4 linked regions of the Homo sapiens genome follow. The gene in region 2 interacts genetically with the main gene of each other region. Each region holds a gene or a part of one and is shown on either strand. Other genes may lie near its edges.

What was found. Genes that interact genetically often act in the same process or in processes that back each other up.
Region 1: changes in GPI (region 2) and CIT together harm fitness more than expected from each alone (negative genetic interaction), as found in Homo sapiens cells (one large-scale study listed by BioGRID).
Region 3: changes in GPI (region 2) and ALAD together harm fitness more than expected from each alone (negative genetic interaction), as found in Homo sapiens cells (one large-scale study listed by BioGRID).
Region 4: changes in GPI (region 2) and LIG1 together harm fitness less than expected from each alone (positive genetic interaction), as found in Homo sapiens cells (one large-scale study listed by BioGRID).

The regions. Positions count from the first base shown.
Region 1 is NC_000012.12:119,867,321-119,870,820, forward strand, and holds part of CIT (citron Rho-interacting kinase), read right to left. Parts: intron 1,882-3,500; coding exon 1,740-1,881; intron 1-1,739. UniProt on the Homo sapiens protein: Plays a role in cytokinesis. Required for KIF14 localization to the central spindle and midbody. Putative RHO/RAC effector that binds to the GTP-bound forms of RHO and RAC1. It probably binds p21 with a tighter specificity in vivo.
Region 2 is NC_000019.10:34,375,196-34,378,695, reverse strand, and holds part of GPI (glucose-6-phosphate isomerase), read right to left. Parts: intron 1,194-3,500; coding exon 1,110-1,193; intron 962-1,109; coding exon 815-961; intron 1-814. UniProt on the Homo sapiens protein: In the cytoplasm, catalyzes the conversion of glucose-6-phosphate to fructose-6-phosphate, the second step in glycolysis, and the reverse reaction during gluconeogenesis.
Region 3 is NC_000009.12:113,398,485-113,402,467, forward strand, and holds the start of ALAD (delta-aminolevulinic acid dehydratase), read right to left. Parts: upstream 2,801-3,983; 5' UTR 2,728-2,800; exon of another isoform or gene 1-2,727.
Region 4 is NC_000019.10:48,163,845-48,167,344, forward strand, and holds part of LIG1 (DNA ligase 1), read right to left. Parts: intron 1,780-3,500; 5' UTR 1,723-1,779; coding exon 1,706-1,722; intron 1-1,705.

The DNA of each region.
Region 1 (3,500 bases), on a different chromosome or scaffold from region 2:
TGGGATTACAGGCGCCCGCTGCCACATTCAGCTAATTCTTGTATTTTTAGTAGAGACAAGGTTTCACCATGTTGGCCAGGCTGGTCTGGAACTCCTGACCTCAAGTGATCCGCCGCCTCAGCCTCCCAAAGCGCTGGGCTTACACGCATGAGCCACCGCGCCCAGCCACAGTGACTATTGTTTTAAGTCAGTAATATTTAGGGTGGTTGGTTGCACAGCAATGTTGTACAAGGTGGGGTTTCTCAAATTCAGCACTGTTGGCATTGTGGGCTACATAATTCTGTGTTATGGGGGCTGCTTTGTGCACTGTAAGGTGTTTGGTGGCATCTCTGGCCTCACCCATTAACTGACAGTAGGACCCTTCCCCCCAAACTCACACACCACCACCCCCAACTAGCTCTGACAACCGAAAACGTCAAATCACCCACTGGTTGAAAAACACTAATGTAAGAGTATGAAACTGGGACACTAACAGCCAACTGCCTCATCACATGGAAGTCAAGCAAAGTCAGAAACAGGGTGAAGGCAAGGCCAATATATGACTTCATAGGCCCTAGGTACTTTTGCCTTCCTCAGCCCCTTCCTCCATTAAAAACAAAAAAGAATTCAAAAATTATATTTTATGGGGCCAGGCATGGTGGCTCACACCTGTAATCCCAAAGCTTTGGGAGGCTGAGGCAGGAAGACTGCTTCAAGCCTGGAGTTTGAAACCAGCCTGGGTAACATAGTAAGACCCTATCTCTACAGAGAAAAAAGCAAAAATTAGCTGGGCGTGGTAGTGTGAGCCTGTAGTCCCAGCCACTGGGGTGGAAGGATTGCTTGAGCCTAGAAGGTTGAAACTGCAGTGAGCCATGATATACCACTGCAATCCAGCCTGGGTAATAGGGCAAGACTCTGTCTCCAAAAAAAACAAAAATTATATTTTATGACTACATTAGTATAAAGATGAATGTAATCCAGAATCATTATACATTATTATATTCATTTTTCCTATAATTTTAAAACAAATTAAAATTTAATTCAGTTAATTAAAAGTAATTAAATTCATTAAAATTAAATATCACAGATCCTAAGCACCGTGCCTACTCTGCCTAATAGAAAGTCAGCCCTGAGTGAGTATAAGGACAGGGCCACGGGATATTATTGAGGTCTCTGGAACTAGCTATGCCTAAAGCTAAAACTTAACTCATTCCTGGATTTCTCAGTTTCATGAGCCAATAAATTCACTCTTTTATTCACACAGGGTCTCACTCTGTCACCCAGACTGGAGTGCAATGGCACAATCACAGCTCATTGAGCCTCAACCTCCCGGGCTCCAGTGATCCTCCCACCTCAGCCTCCTCAGCAGCTGGGACCACGGGTGCAAGCCACCATACCCAGCTAATTTTTGTATTTTTTGTAGAGATGGGGTTTCACCATGTTGCCCAAGCTGGTCTTGAACTCCTGGGCTCAAGCGATTCACCCACCTCAGCTTCCCAAAGGGCTGAGATTATAGGTATGAGCCATTGCACCTGGCCTAAATTCAGTCTTTGAATTAAGTTTGTCGCTTGCAACCAAGAAGCCCAACTTACCTGGTCTCCCAGCTATAAGAGGTGCAGCCTGAATTTGAACCTGGATCTGTCTTATATAGAACCAGAGTTCTTACCGACTACTATCAACCAGTAACTCATTCTGCCTCAAGCATCTTTCTAGTTTTTCTCTCTCAGGACAGTTTTCAAGAAAAAGTTCCCCAAACTTACACTTCCGGACAAAGTTGCTCACGTGCTTAATCTTCATCAGAGCAGGCTGACTGCATTCTTCAAAGAGAACAAAGAGGGCATCTAATATCCCTTCTCGGGAAAGAGGAGACATCTGCTGTTGAGTCATAAAGGGTGGTTTCCCCTAAAAACAGCAAACAGCAGATGGAGACACTGTCAATAATGAAAAGCTTTGATCAATAACATCCACACAGAGTAAATTACAAGCCACCAACTCAACTAACTGCTCACGACATGCTAACAGCACAATTCTGTGGCTTCATTCTTTAAAGCAACGTCAACTGACAGTCATTATGGTATCACTTCCATGATTCCAAGACTGTGGGTTTCTTTCACCAGCACCTGGGAAGGAAAACTGCACAAGCGTGGCCATTAACAAGAAAAGCTCCCTCACTCCTGAGGGTCTGAGGCTAGTGAGAATATTTCCTCTGGATCCTCTGGCTCTGACATGCTTCCATGTTTCTACAATAGGAAACAATGGGTTTTTCACTTCTTTCATGTGTGCCCAGGGGTTTATTCATATAATTTCAGCTTTTTTAATTCATTTGAACAACCTAGAGTAATAAGAACTGAGTGACCATCGTAAAGCCAAATTTACTCATGATCTGGAGAAATAGTTACAAACTGGCAGACTGTCTCTAGCCCACAGATATGTTTTGTTTGGCCTGTAGTGTTTAAGATAATTTGAATTATCTGCCAATATTTCAAAATCAGGAGATTCCATACAAAAAAATAAAAATGGAGTCTCTGGCTTCTTTTGAAACACTGGCACATCCGGCAACACTGCCTCGCCTTCCTGCCTGATGACGCTGAGCTGGAGCTGAGTAATGCTGCCCCTCCCGGTAGCAGATGTGTTTGGGAGTTCACTGCAGGTCTGACTCCATCTTCCAACTGGCCCACTTGACTCATTTATACTCACTGCCTGGCCCCCAAAGACATGAGTCTGCAACCCTGGTATAGAGCAGTGATTCCCACGTGCCAAGCCATGGATAGTGGTGGTCTCTCTTCAAAGATGGCCTCCAACAGTTCCTCCAATTCTGTAGGCACATGCTACTCCTTACTTTAAGCGCTGGAGTCTATTTCTCCTGCCTTTGAATCTGTGCCATCTCTGAGACTCTCTTCAACCAAAAGAATGTGACACAAGTGACACTGTGCCAGTTCAGGGCAGTGCCTTTAAGAAGCTTGTCAAGCGGCCAGACACGGTGGCTCACATCTGTAATCCCAGCACTTTGGGAGGCCAAGACGGGTGGATCACTTGAGGTCAGGAGTTTGAGACCAGCCTGGCCAACATGGTGAAACCCTGTCTCTACCAAAATACAAAAATTAGCCAGGCGTGGTGGTAGGCACCCGTAATCCCAGCTACCTGGGAGGTTGAGGCATGAGAATTGCCTGCACCCGGGAGATGGAGGTTGCAGTGAGCCGAGATCACACCACCGCACTCCAGCCTAGGCAACACAGTGAGACTCCCTCTCAAAAAAAAAAAAAAAAAAAAAAAAGGCAGCTTAGCAGCTTCCACTTTTGGGAAGCCAGCCACCATGCACAGATGCTTGGGCTAGACCAGGGGTGTGCAATCTGTAGCCCTTGGACCAAATCCAGCCCACGGACTTTTTATAAGTTTTACTGGAACACAGCTACACCCATCATTTACATATTGTCTTTAGCTGCTTTTGTGCTACCATGGCCAAGTTGAGTGGTTGCAACAGAGACTACAGGACCCACAAAGCCTAAAATATTTATTACTTA
Region 2 (3,500 bases):
CCCTGAGGGGCTGCAGTCAACCTGAGGCTCTCTTCGGCCCAGGCTGGAAGGTATCTCAGAATTCAGATGGAATTCTTCATATTTTATGTACATTCATGTGAGTAAATAGAACATAAATAAAAACAAACAAAACCCCTCTATTATCAGGGCATGGCTCTGGGATCAGAAAGGAGCAAGCATGGCTGGGCATGGCGGCTCAAGACTGTAATCCCAGCACTTTGGGAGGCCAAGGGGGGGTGCATCACCTGAGGTCAGGAGTTCAAGACCAGCATGGCCAACATGGCAAAAGCCCATCTCTACTAAAAAATAATAATAATAAATAAATAAATAATAAAATTAGCCAGGCGTGGTGGTGTGTGCCTAGTCCCAGCTACTTGGGAGGCTGAGGCAGGAGAATCGCTTGAAACCTGGGAGACGGAGATTGCAGTGAGCCGAGATCACGCCACTACACTCCAGCCTGGGTGACAGAGCCAGACTCTGTCTCAAAAACAACAACAAGAAAAGGAGCAGGCATAAAGGACAGGTTTGTAAGAAAGTGGCGAGCAGTCCCAGGCTGAGCAGAGATGCCGCAAGGCGAGCGGGTGTGGTCAGGACACAAAGGTTCAAACTGATGTGTTCAGGATTTCATCAGTCAACCTTATTTGCTGCTAGGCATGGAAACAGTCTAGGGCAGCTGTACTGACCTGATCCACAAACCATGGTTCACTCGGAACCCACCAAAAGGGACCAATGGCCAGGGGGATGGCAAGACAGCTGTCCCTCCCCACCCCAACACACACAGGGCCAGGGGCCGGGCAGTTTTCGGCACTCATACCTTGGAGGCAATGATGAACAGGGAGGACTCGGGGTTCAGCTGGGCCAGGGTTTTGGCAATGTGAGTTCCATCAATGTTGGAGACATACCAGACGCGGGGACCTCCTGAAGAGTATGGCTTAAGGGCTTCAGTCACCATGAGGGGTCCCTGCGGGGAGACATAGCATCAGAGAATAAGAATTCAGGGCCCACGAAAAGTGGAGACAGCCAGGTCCCATCCCTGGAGAAAGTAAAGACCTGAGTGGGACCAACAGTGCCCAGACTCCCACCCTACCCCAAGGCAGTTTTCTCCTCACCAGGTCGGAGCCGCCAATGCCAATGTTGATGACGTCCGTGATGGTCTTGCCTGTGTACCCCTTCCAGTCACCGCTCCGGACACGCTGGCACAGGGGCGAAGATGCCATCAGCCCAAACCCCCAGGCATAATCCGCTGCTCAAAAACATCATTACTGCCGTGTCCTGGTACCTCAGTCCCAGCTTTCAGGCCCTCGCAGGTGCCTCTATTTTTTTGTTTTTAATTTACCATATATATATATATATATATATTTTTTTTTTTTTTTTTTTTTTTTTTTTTTTTTTTTGAGATGAAGCCTTGCTCTGTTGCCCAGGCTGGAGTGCAGTGGCATGATCTCGGCTCCCTGCAATCTCTGCCTCCCAGGTTCACGTCATTCTCCTGCCTCAGCCTCCTGAGTAGCTGGGACTACAGGCGCCCGCCACCACACCCAGCTAGTTTTTTGTATTTTTAGTAGAGACAGGGTTTCACCGTGTTAGCCAGGATGGTCTCGATCTCCTGACCCTGTGATCTGCCCGCCTCAGCCTCCCAAAGTGCTGGGATTACTGGCTTGAGCCACCGCACCCAGCTATTTATTTTTAATTTTTTTTTTGAGACAGAGTCTCCACTTTCTGGGTTCTAACAATTCTCATGCCTCAGTCTCCTGAGTAGCTGGGACTACAAGCCTGCGCCACCAGCATGCCTAGCTAATTTTTTTGTATTTTTAGTAGGGACGAGGTTTTGCCATGTTGGCCAGGCTGGTCTCGAATTACTGGCCTCAAGTGATCTGCCCAGCTCGGCCTCCCAAAGTGCTGGAATTACAGGTGTGAGCCACCGCGCCTCGCTATTTACTTATTTTTAAAACTGTGCCTTAGGGGCCAGGCAGGGTGGCTCAAGGCTGAGACAGGAGGATTGCTTGAGTCCAGGAAGTTGAGGCTGCAGCAAGCCAAGATCGCAACACTGCACCTCCAGCCTAGGTGACAGAGGAAGACCCTGACTCCAAAAACAGAACAAAATGCTCTGCTTTAGCCTTTTTTTTTTTTTTTTTGAGACAGGGTCTCACTCCGTCGCCCAGGCTGGAGTACAACGGCACGATCTCAGCTCACTGCAGCCTCCGCCTCCAGGCTCCAGGGTTCAAGCAATTCTCCTGCCTCAGCCTCCCAAGTAGCTGGGATTACAGGCACCTGCCACCCTGCCCAGCTAATTTTTAGTATTTCCAGTAGAGATGGGGTTTCGCCGTGTTGGCCACGCTGGTCTCAAACTCCTGACCTCAGGTGATCCACCTGCCTCGGCCTCCCAAAGCGCTTGGATTACAGGCATGAGCCACCACGCAAAGCCTATTTTATTTTTTGTAGAGACAGCGTCTTGCTACGTTGCCCAGCCTGGTCTCTAACTCCTGGCCTCAAATAATCCTCCCATCTTGACCTCCCAAAGTGTTGGGATTACAGGCGTGAGCCACTACACAAGGCATAGGAGTCTCTGGAGACCACACTGGTCCCTGCCACACTCACCACCAACTAGACTCTTTCCTGGTTACAACAGTGAGACATCCCTACCTTACAGCGACACTGTCAGAATTTGCAAAACCAGGGATAACTCGGCAGAATCTGCTATGCCAGAGACCAAGAGATGTGAAATGTTGAAAACTGTGACTGGGCTATGCTGGGGAAAGGAGTATCAGACCCGCAGCCAGTCTCCAATCAGACACCAGTGATCCTTGCTTCCTGGAATTCATGCCTCTGCATAGCTTCCGCCTGTGCTGGGAGGGGTGACCTATGCACCCATCCAGAGACTGCAAAAAGGGGTGAAATGTGACTTCAGAAGTGAGTTCAGAGAACGTGCAGTTTCTGCTTTGCTCTCTTGGATGACTCGCTTTGGGGAAGCTGTCTATCATGTTGTGAAGACATTCAAACAGTTTCATAAAGAAGCCCACGCGGCAGCGAACTAAGGCCTTTTTCCAAAAGTCACAGCCAACTCGCTTCCTGTGTATGGGACACTTTAGAGGGGGGTCCTCCAAACCCATCAAAACTTCCGATAACTGGGGCGCTGGCCAACATGTTGACTACAGCCTTATGAGAGATCCCCAAACCAAGACCAACCAGCTAAGCCGCTCCCAAACTTCTGACCCACAGACACTGTGAGAGGTAATAAAAGTTTACTGCTAGGCCGGGCATGGTGGCTCACACCTGTAATCCTGGCACTTTGGGAGACCAAGGCAGGCAGATCACAAGGTCAGGAGTTCGAGACCAGCCTAGTCAACATGGTGAAACCCCGTCTCTGCTAAAAAAAAAAAATACAAAAATTATCCAGGCATGGTGGCGTGTGCCTGTAATCTCAGCTACTCGGGAGGCTGAGGCAGGAGAATTGCTTAAATCCAGGAGGCAGAGGTTGCAGTGAGTGGAGATCACGCCATTGC
Region 3 (3,983 bases), on a different chromosome or scaffold from region 2:
GAGCCTGAGACCGGGGCAGGGTTAGAGTAAAGGGAACAGTCTCACTACAGCAGTCCACTTTGATCTGTTTTTGAATTTTAAGATTCAGAGACAGATTTGATTTGAGAAACGGCTGTCAGTGCTGAAAATATTAAAAGCTTGAAAATTGCCAATCCTGTTTAATCCCTTACACTTTAATGTGGAAAATGGGGTATAAAGAGGCAACGGGACTTTTGGAGATCACAGTGAGTGACATACAGAGCTATAAACTGACCCTGCAGCTCCTGGCTTCTATTTCAGTGCCCTGATACCTACACCATAGAGTCATTCCATTGTAAGAGGTACTTAATAAGTGGAGTTTCCCACTCCATTCTGTGAGTGGGAAAACACCCCCTGAATCACATATTGGCAGAGCCAAATGCAGGGTGGGTTTTGCTTTGCAAAAAGGCCCTTAGAGTTTGGGAGAATTTCACAGACTGGGAGGGCACTTCTCCCAAATCAAGCGAGCTTGCAAACCACAATTTAAATGCCTGTGACATTACCACACTGAAGACAGGAGCGAGCCGCCAGGAGGTCCAGCACCTCTGCCCAACCACATCAGACAGGTTAGCTTTGCTGGGACGCAGAGTATAGGGCGGTGCAGAAAGATCCATGTTTCAGGGTCAGACAGTCCCAGGTTTGGTCTATGCTCTGCTGTGTAATTTTGGGCAAAGTAATTGACCTTTCAGTGTTCATTTCATAATCTACAAAATAGGCATGATATCTCTAACTTGCAAGGCTGTGGAGATTATTGATAGGGATAAGGTAGGTGTCTGGCACCAAGTAGCTGCACAGTAAACATGTAGCTACTTTTATTACTATTAGGAGTGGGGCTGGGTTGGAACGAGATGTCCTGGCACAGCTCTGTGCCTTCTGCACCTCACCAGATGGGAATATGAGCTCAAACCCTTGTGGGCCACAGGGTTTTCCAAGATTTCTGAAGTGGAGTCCCTGCCTTCCAGCAGGTTATGTGGTGGAGGAAAAACAAAATAATCACCACCGGGCTGCCAGAGTAGAGGGGTGGACCAGGTGCTGTCAGAGGGACTGTGTCTCTGAGTCAAGGGTGGTTTCATGGAAGAGGGGACAGTGAAGGATAAGAAGTGTTTCAGATTTAATATGAAAGTATCTCCTCCCATGGAAGGCAACATCCCCAAACTGGGAGTAACTGAAGTTGGGCCCTGAGCACTGCTACCAGGAGGGGCTATGAGCTTCATGTGCCACCCCCCACCCCTGCAAGTTGTACTATGCTGAGGATTCCAGAGGCTGTGGGTCTTCGCACAGAGGCTTAGGACCTGCTGCCAGCCCTGGCAGGCTCTGCCACTGGCCAGGGAGGAGGCAGTCAGGAGAGCCAGCTAGATAGAAGGTGGCCAGAACTGAGAAATCCAAAGCCCCACAAAGGCCCAGGAGAGCAGCTGTCATGCAGTTCTGAAAAGAGATGAAGTGTTTATTCAGCCAACCCACATTTCTTGAATATCTACTATGGGCCTGCTGAAGTGCTAGACACAGGGATTAAAGAGAAGAATGAGACCCCAGCCTTGCCCTGGGGCTTTGAAGAGCCTGATCGCCTCTGGGGTTAGCCATTTAGACGTAGGAGAAGCTGCCATTCCCAGAATCCTAGAATATCTTGGCTAAGAGTCTTCTTAAAGTTTGCTGATTGTATCACTGAAACAAGGGTGAAACTGGGCTCAGAGAGGGGTAGACACAGGCCCAGGATCACGCAGTGGGTCAGCGGCAGATCTGGGGGAAGGTCTCCAGCAGCCCAGTCCTCAGTGCCCACCATGACACCTCCATACTTTAAGGATAGATATCAAATCTGTTTCCCAGCAGGTTGGGCTTGTGGAGAGCTTTGGGTGAGCCAGACTCTGGGCCTGGCTGCTGTTGGTAGCAGGATGGTTAAGTATGTGGGCTCTGGAGTCTGATAGATGTGGGTACAAATCCTAGTTCTGTAGCTTTCTAGTTGTGTGACCTCAGTTTCTTCGTTTAGTAAATGGGGACTAGAACCGACCTCAATGGGTTGTTGTAAGAAATGAATGGGTCAGGCCGGGCGTGGTGGCTCACGCCTGTAATCCCAGCACTTTGGGAGGCCGAGGTGGGCGAATCACCTGAGCTCGGGAGTTCGAGACTAGCCTGACCAACAGGGAGAAACCCCATCTCTACTAAAAATACAAAAATTAGCAGGCGTGGTGGCACACGCCTGTAATCCCAGCTAGTTGGCAGGCTGAGGCAGGAGAATCGCTTGAACCCGGGAGGCGGAGGTTGCAGTGAGCTGAGATCGCGCCATTGCACTCCAGCCTGGGCAACAAGAGCGAAACTCCGTCTCAAAAATAAATAAATAAATAAAATAAATGAATGGTCAATGCACGCAACGCTTAGTACAAAACGGCTGTTATTGTTTTCACCTCCCTACCCCCCCACCAACCACCACCCGCACCTCGGGTTCTGCATCGATGGAGTCTGCCCAGGCGGTATCCGAGAGGGTGAACCCCAGAGAAGAGGTGCGGAGCCCCGAACCCGGGCCCCCAACCTCGGCTGCAGCGGGATAATCCAGCCCAAACAAACGCTCCACGGGACTCCGTGCACGGCTGCACCGCCAGGGCTTCAGGCGCACAGCACAATCTGGGGACGCAGGACTCTTGGTGCCACAGTCCCCGCCTCGCCCTGGAGCCGCCCTCCAGGCCCGCTATCTCCCCGCATCCAGCCCCCGCTCACCTGCCTCCCTAAGGGCTCCCGGCCGCTGCTCCTGTCACCGCTGTCTCCCGCTCCGGTCTCCCACAGACCGCGTAAGAGCGGGGGGGGCTCACCCGGAAGCAGCTTCCCCACGGTCCGCCCCCTCCACAGTCCAGGCCACGCCCCCTGAAGGCGGTCTTCTGGGGGGCTCCTCCGCTCCAGCCGCGGCCCCGCCCACACGCAACGAGGCCTGGCCAATTGGGTGTGTCGAGGGCCTGGAGGGCCCGCCCGTCCCCGCTCCGGGCCCTGCGCTTGTGCAGCGAACTGCAGGAGGGAGGCCACGAGGGGGCGCAGGAACCGCTTGGGAGGGTCCCTGGGTGTGAGCCGGCCTCGGAGGCGGTTACAGCCCAGGTTTCACTTCACAGCATTCCTTTGCCCAGCCTAGGGCAAACTTGGCTCTGGTTAATGGCTTGGTGAAAGAATAATTGGATGTCAAAGCCGTTAAAACAGCACCATTATGCCTAACACAGTATTAGCTAAGTCCATTTTTGCGGACTAAGCTAAAGTTGTTGAGTTCAGCGCCAGGCTTCCAAGTTTTCAGAGAAAATTTGTACCAGCTTCATTTATTTCTCAGGGTACGGCAATGCTATGAGTTGAGAGATGTGATGTGAAAGACATGGGCGTTTAGGAAAACTCCAAGTCTTGATAGGGGCATCAGACCTATGATAGGTACAATGATAGATCCGATCAAAGGTCTTTATGGAGATTGGAGATGTGCAGAGGCAAGAGGGATCTGGTGAGGCTTATGGGGCCTGGGTAAACCAGTAGGATTGGATGAGTAAAATGGCGATCGGGCATCATCGCCCTAGCGAAGCAATGCCTTTCAGGTGGTTCTTCAGGGATTATTGAAAAGTTGACTTTCAAATGTAGAGGACACTAGTGGGTTACATTACACTTATTCTCAGATTTTATTTCTCAGCCCGGTTCGGTGGCTCACGCCTGTAATCCCAGCACTTTGGGAGGCCAAGGCGGGCGGATCTCTTGAGGTCAGGAGTTCAAGACCAGCCTGACCAACATGGTGAAACCCTGTCTCTACTAAAAATACAAAAAATTAGCCGGGCGTGGTGGCGGGCTCCTGTAATCCCAGCTACTCGGGAGGCTGAGGCAGGAGAATCGCTTGAACCCGGGAGGCGGAGGTTGTAATGGGCTGAGATCATGCCACTGCATTCCAGCCTGGGTGACAGAGGGAGACTCTGTCTCAAAAAAAAATTTTTTTTTAAATTTCTCAAAATCTGTAC
Region 4 (3,500 bases), about 14 Mb from region 2:
TGAGGCAGGGGAATGGCCTGAACCTGGGAGGCAGAGCTTACAGTGAGCCAAGATCGCGCCACTGCACTCCAGCCTGGGCGACAGAGCAAGACTCTGTCTCAAAAAAAAAAAAAAAAAAAATGTTGGAAGGCGTGAACATTAAAAAAAAAATCTGGTGAAATCTGAATAATAAAGTATGGAGTTCAGTTAAGAGTAATGTACTGACATTAGTATCTCAGTGGTGAGAAACGGATCATAGTAATGTATGATATTGACAATGGAAACTGGCCAAGGGTATACAGGACCTCTCTGTACTGTCTTTGCAACTTTCCTGTACCTCTAAAATTATTCCAGAATAAGAGGTTTATTTAATCTTCAAAAAGAAAAGGAAAAATCATGCAAAAGCCAGTGGACAGAAAGCAATCGAAGGCACCATCAGCCCTGGAGAGACAATCCCCAGATTCCTCATCACGGGAGAAAAACGGAACCCAGCATTTGTGTAAGCCACTACCGCCCAGGTTTCTGGGATGGATGCCCTTGTCTGGGTCTCTCTACCATCCATTTTTTCCTCCTGGTAACAGCCCCTCCGTTTTCCTCTTGGGATGCTTCTTACCCCACATTCTCTCAGTACACACGATTTGAGTGGGCTGGCCCTTTTGCCTGTGACCAGGGGTGGACACGTGATCCAGGCTGCATCCCTGTGGCTGGTTCAGGGATAGGTATGTGGCCCAGGCTGGGCCAGTGAAACTGGGCTCTAACACCCTCTTTCCAAGGGGACCGCTAAGAGGGGAGAGCCCGCCTGAGGGTGAGGACAACCTCAAGGACAGTAGAGCTGAACAATGGAGAGAGACAGATTCCCAGGGAGGAAGTTTTGGCAACTGGATCGAACCAAGCCTGAGGCTGTTTACTCCAGCAGGTTTCAATGATATAAGTCAAGTCATGCCCTTTCTTGTCTTCCTGAAGCCGGACTGCATTAACACGAGGTTTCTCAACCTAGACACTATTGACATGTTGGGCCTGATGGTTCTGTGTTGTTGGGGGGGCTGTCCTATGAATTGAAGGATGTTTAGCAGCATGCCTGGCTTTTAGCCACTAGATGCCAATGGCAAACCCTCTGTCCCTAGGTTGTAACAACCAAAAATATCTCCAGACACTGGCCGGGCGCCGTGGCTCACGCCTGAAATCCCAGCACTCTGGGAGGCCGAGGTGGGCGGATCACGAGGTCAGGAGTTTGAGACCAGCCTGACCAACGTGGTGAAACCCCGTCTCTACTAAAAATACAAAAATTAGCCAGGCGTGGTGGCACGTGCCTATAATCCCAGCTACTCAGGAGGCTGAGGCAGGAGAATCACTTGAACTCATGAGGCGGAGGTTGCAGTGAGCCGAGATTGCGCCACTGTACTCCAGCCTGGGTGACAGAGCAAGACTCCAACTCAAAAAAAAAAAATCTCCAGACGCTGCCAGATGTTCCCTGGGGAGCAAAATTGCTGCTGACTGAGAACCACTGCGTTAGGGTTTCTGCTCCTTGCAACTAAAAACTGTTGTTCAATACACTGTCTTCCATATCCCACGGCTCATTTTCCATACTACTTGACTCCTGGAAATTCCAACTCAAAATCTAACGTAAGAGTTTTTGTTTGTTTGTTTGTTTTTTTAAGTACAGATTTAGAGAAAGAAACAGAGGACTTGGAGAAGGAAAGACTCAGGGGCAAGGGAGGGTGCTCACATGATACTTCGCTGCATGTTGGCGTCAGAATTCTCCCTTCCTGTCCAGCACTTTTCTTCGTCTGTCAGCTGCTCCTGGAACAGAAATCCAAACACTTGTTGAGGTGATTGGTTGTGCAGAGATCTAAACACACATAAAACCCTTTCTTTAAGAAAGAAAGAAAAAAAAAAACAGAAACATGAATTTCCCCTTCAAAAAGAAACTCCTGTTTTTATGAACCAAAATAATTTGCTGGTGAGATTTACTGGTGCAGAATAAAAGCTCCAAATCAGAGAAAAAGATAAGAGGCCTCCTTTACCATAAGAAGACTGTTTTTCATCTAATATGAGGAATAGACTGAGGACCTGAAATGGGTTTTTTTGGAGTTAAGTTTAAAGGTTAGTGAAAAATTGTTTTAAGGTGATGACATAATTCCGTGAAACAACTGTGGAAGCTTATAAAATTGTACCCGCTGGTCTACATAAATTAGCTCTTGGGCAGTTTCTAAGGTATGCTGTTATTTCAAACAAAGGGCAGAATATCACAGAGTGTGTGCTACTGAACTGTGTAAAAGAGAAAGGCTATAGGTCAGGCACAGTAGCTCACGCCTGTCATCCCAGCACTTTGGGAGGCCGAGGTGGGTGGATCACTTGAGGTCAGGAGTTCAAGACCAGCCTGGCTAACATGGCAAAACCCTGTCTCTACTAAAAATACAAAAATTAGCCAGGTGCGGTGGCACGCGCCTGTATTCCCAGCTACTCTGGAGGCTGAGGCAGGAGAATCGCTTGAACCCGGGAGGTAGAGGCTGCAGTGACCCGAGATTGTGCTACTGCACTCCAGCCTGGACAAGAGTGAAACTCCATCTCAAAAAACAAAAACAAAAGAAAGACTATAAATGTATCCACATATCTTGTATATGTACAGAACATCTCAGTTGGAAGACAAAAAACTGGTAATGCTGTCGCCTCAGGAGGGACAGACGCTGGAGGGAGATTTTTTAATATGCATGCTTTTGCAGGCAGAACAATTGGAATACGTTACCCCTTCACAATATATTTTTAAAAATTAAATACTTTTTTAAAAAGTCTGTTATTTAATGAAATCAATAACAGTCACTGGGGCTTCCACAGTTTAGAGTAACTCTAATGAAAGGGTTCCTAGGCCGGGCGTGGTGGCTGCTGCCCATAATCCCAGCATTTTGGGAGGCCGAAGCGGGTGGATCGCCTGAGGTCAGGAGTTCGAGACCAGCCTGGCCAGCATGGTGAAACCTCATCTCTACTAAAAATACAAAAATTAGCCAGGTATGGTGGTGCACACCTGTAATCCCAGCTAGTGGGGAGGCTGAGGCAGGAGAATCACTTGAACCCAGGAAGTGGAGGTTGCAGTGAGATCATGCACTCTAGCCTGGGCAACAGAGTAACACTCTGTCTCAAAAAAAAAAAAAAAGAAAGAAAAAGAAAGAAAAAGAAAAAGAAAAGAAAGGGTTCTTAATCTGGGGTCCACAAAACCCAGGAGTCCAAGAGCAGAACTCAAGTGGTCTATGAAATTTGACAGGAAAGAAATTACGACTTTATTCTTGTAAACTTCTAATTGGAACTGAGCCTTTCCTTCCATTATAAATATTAAAGATATAAAAAATTATAAATTTTCTATATCTTTAATATTTATAATGGAAGAAAATAAATTACACATTATAATTATGTAATTATAATTATTTACATTATATTTCCTTCCACTATGAATATATTTTTTAAAAAAGGACTAGCAGGACCTCTGCGTGGATTGCTTGAGTTGAGACCAGCTCAGACCAGCCTGG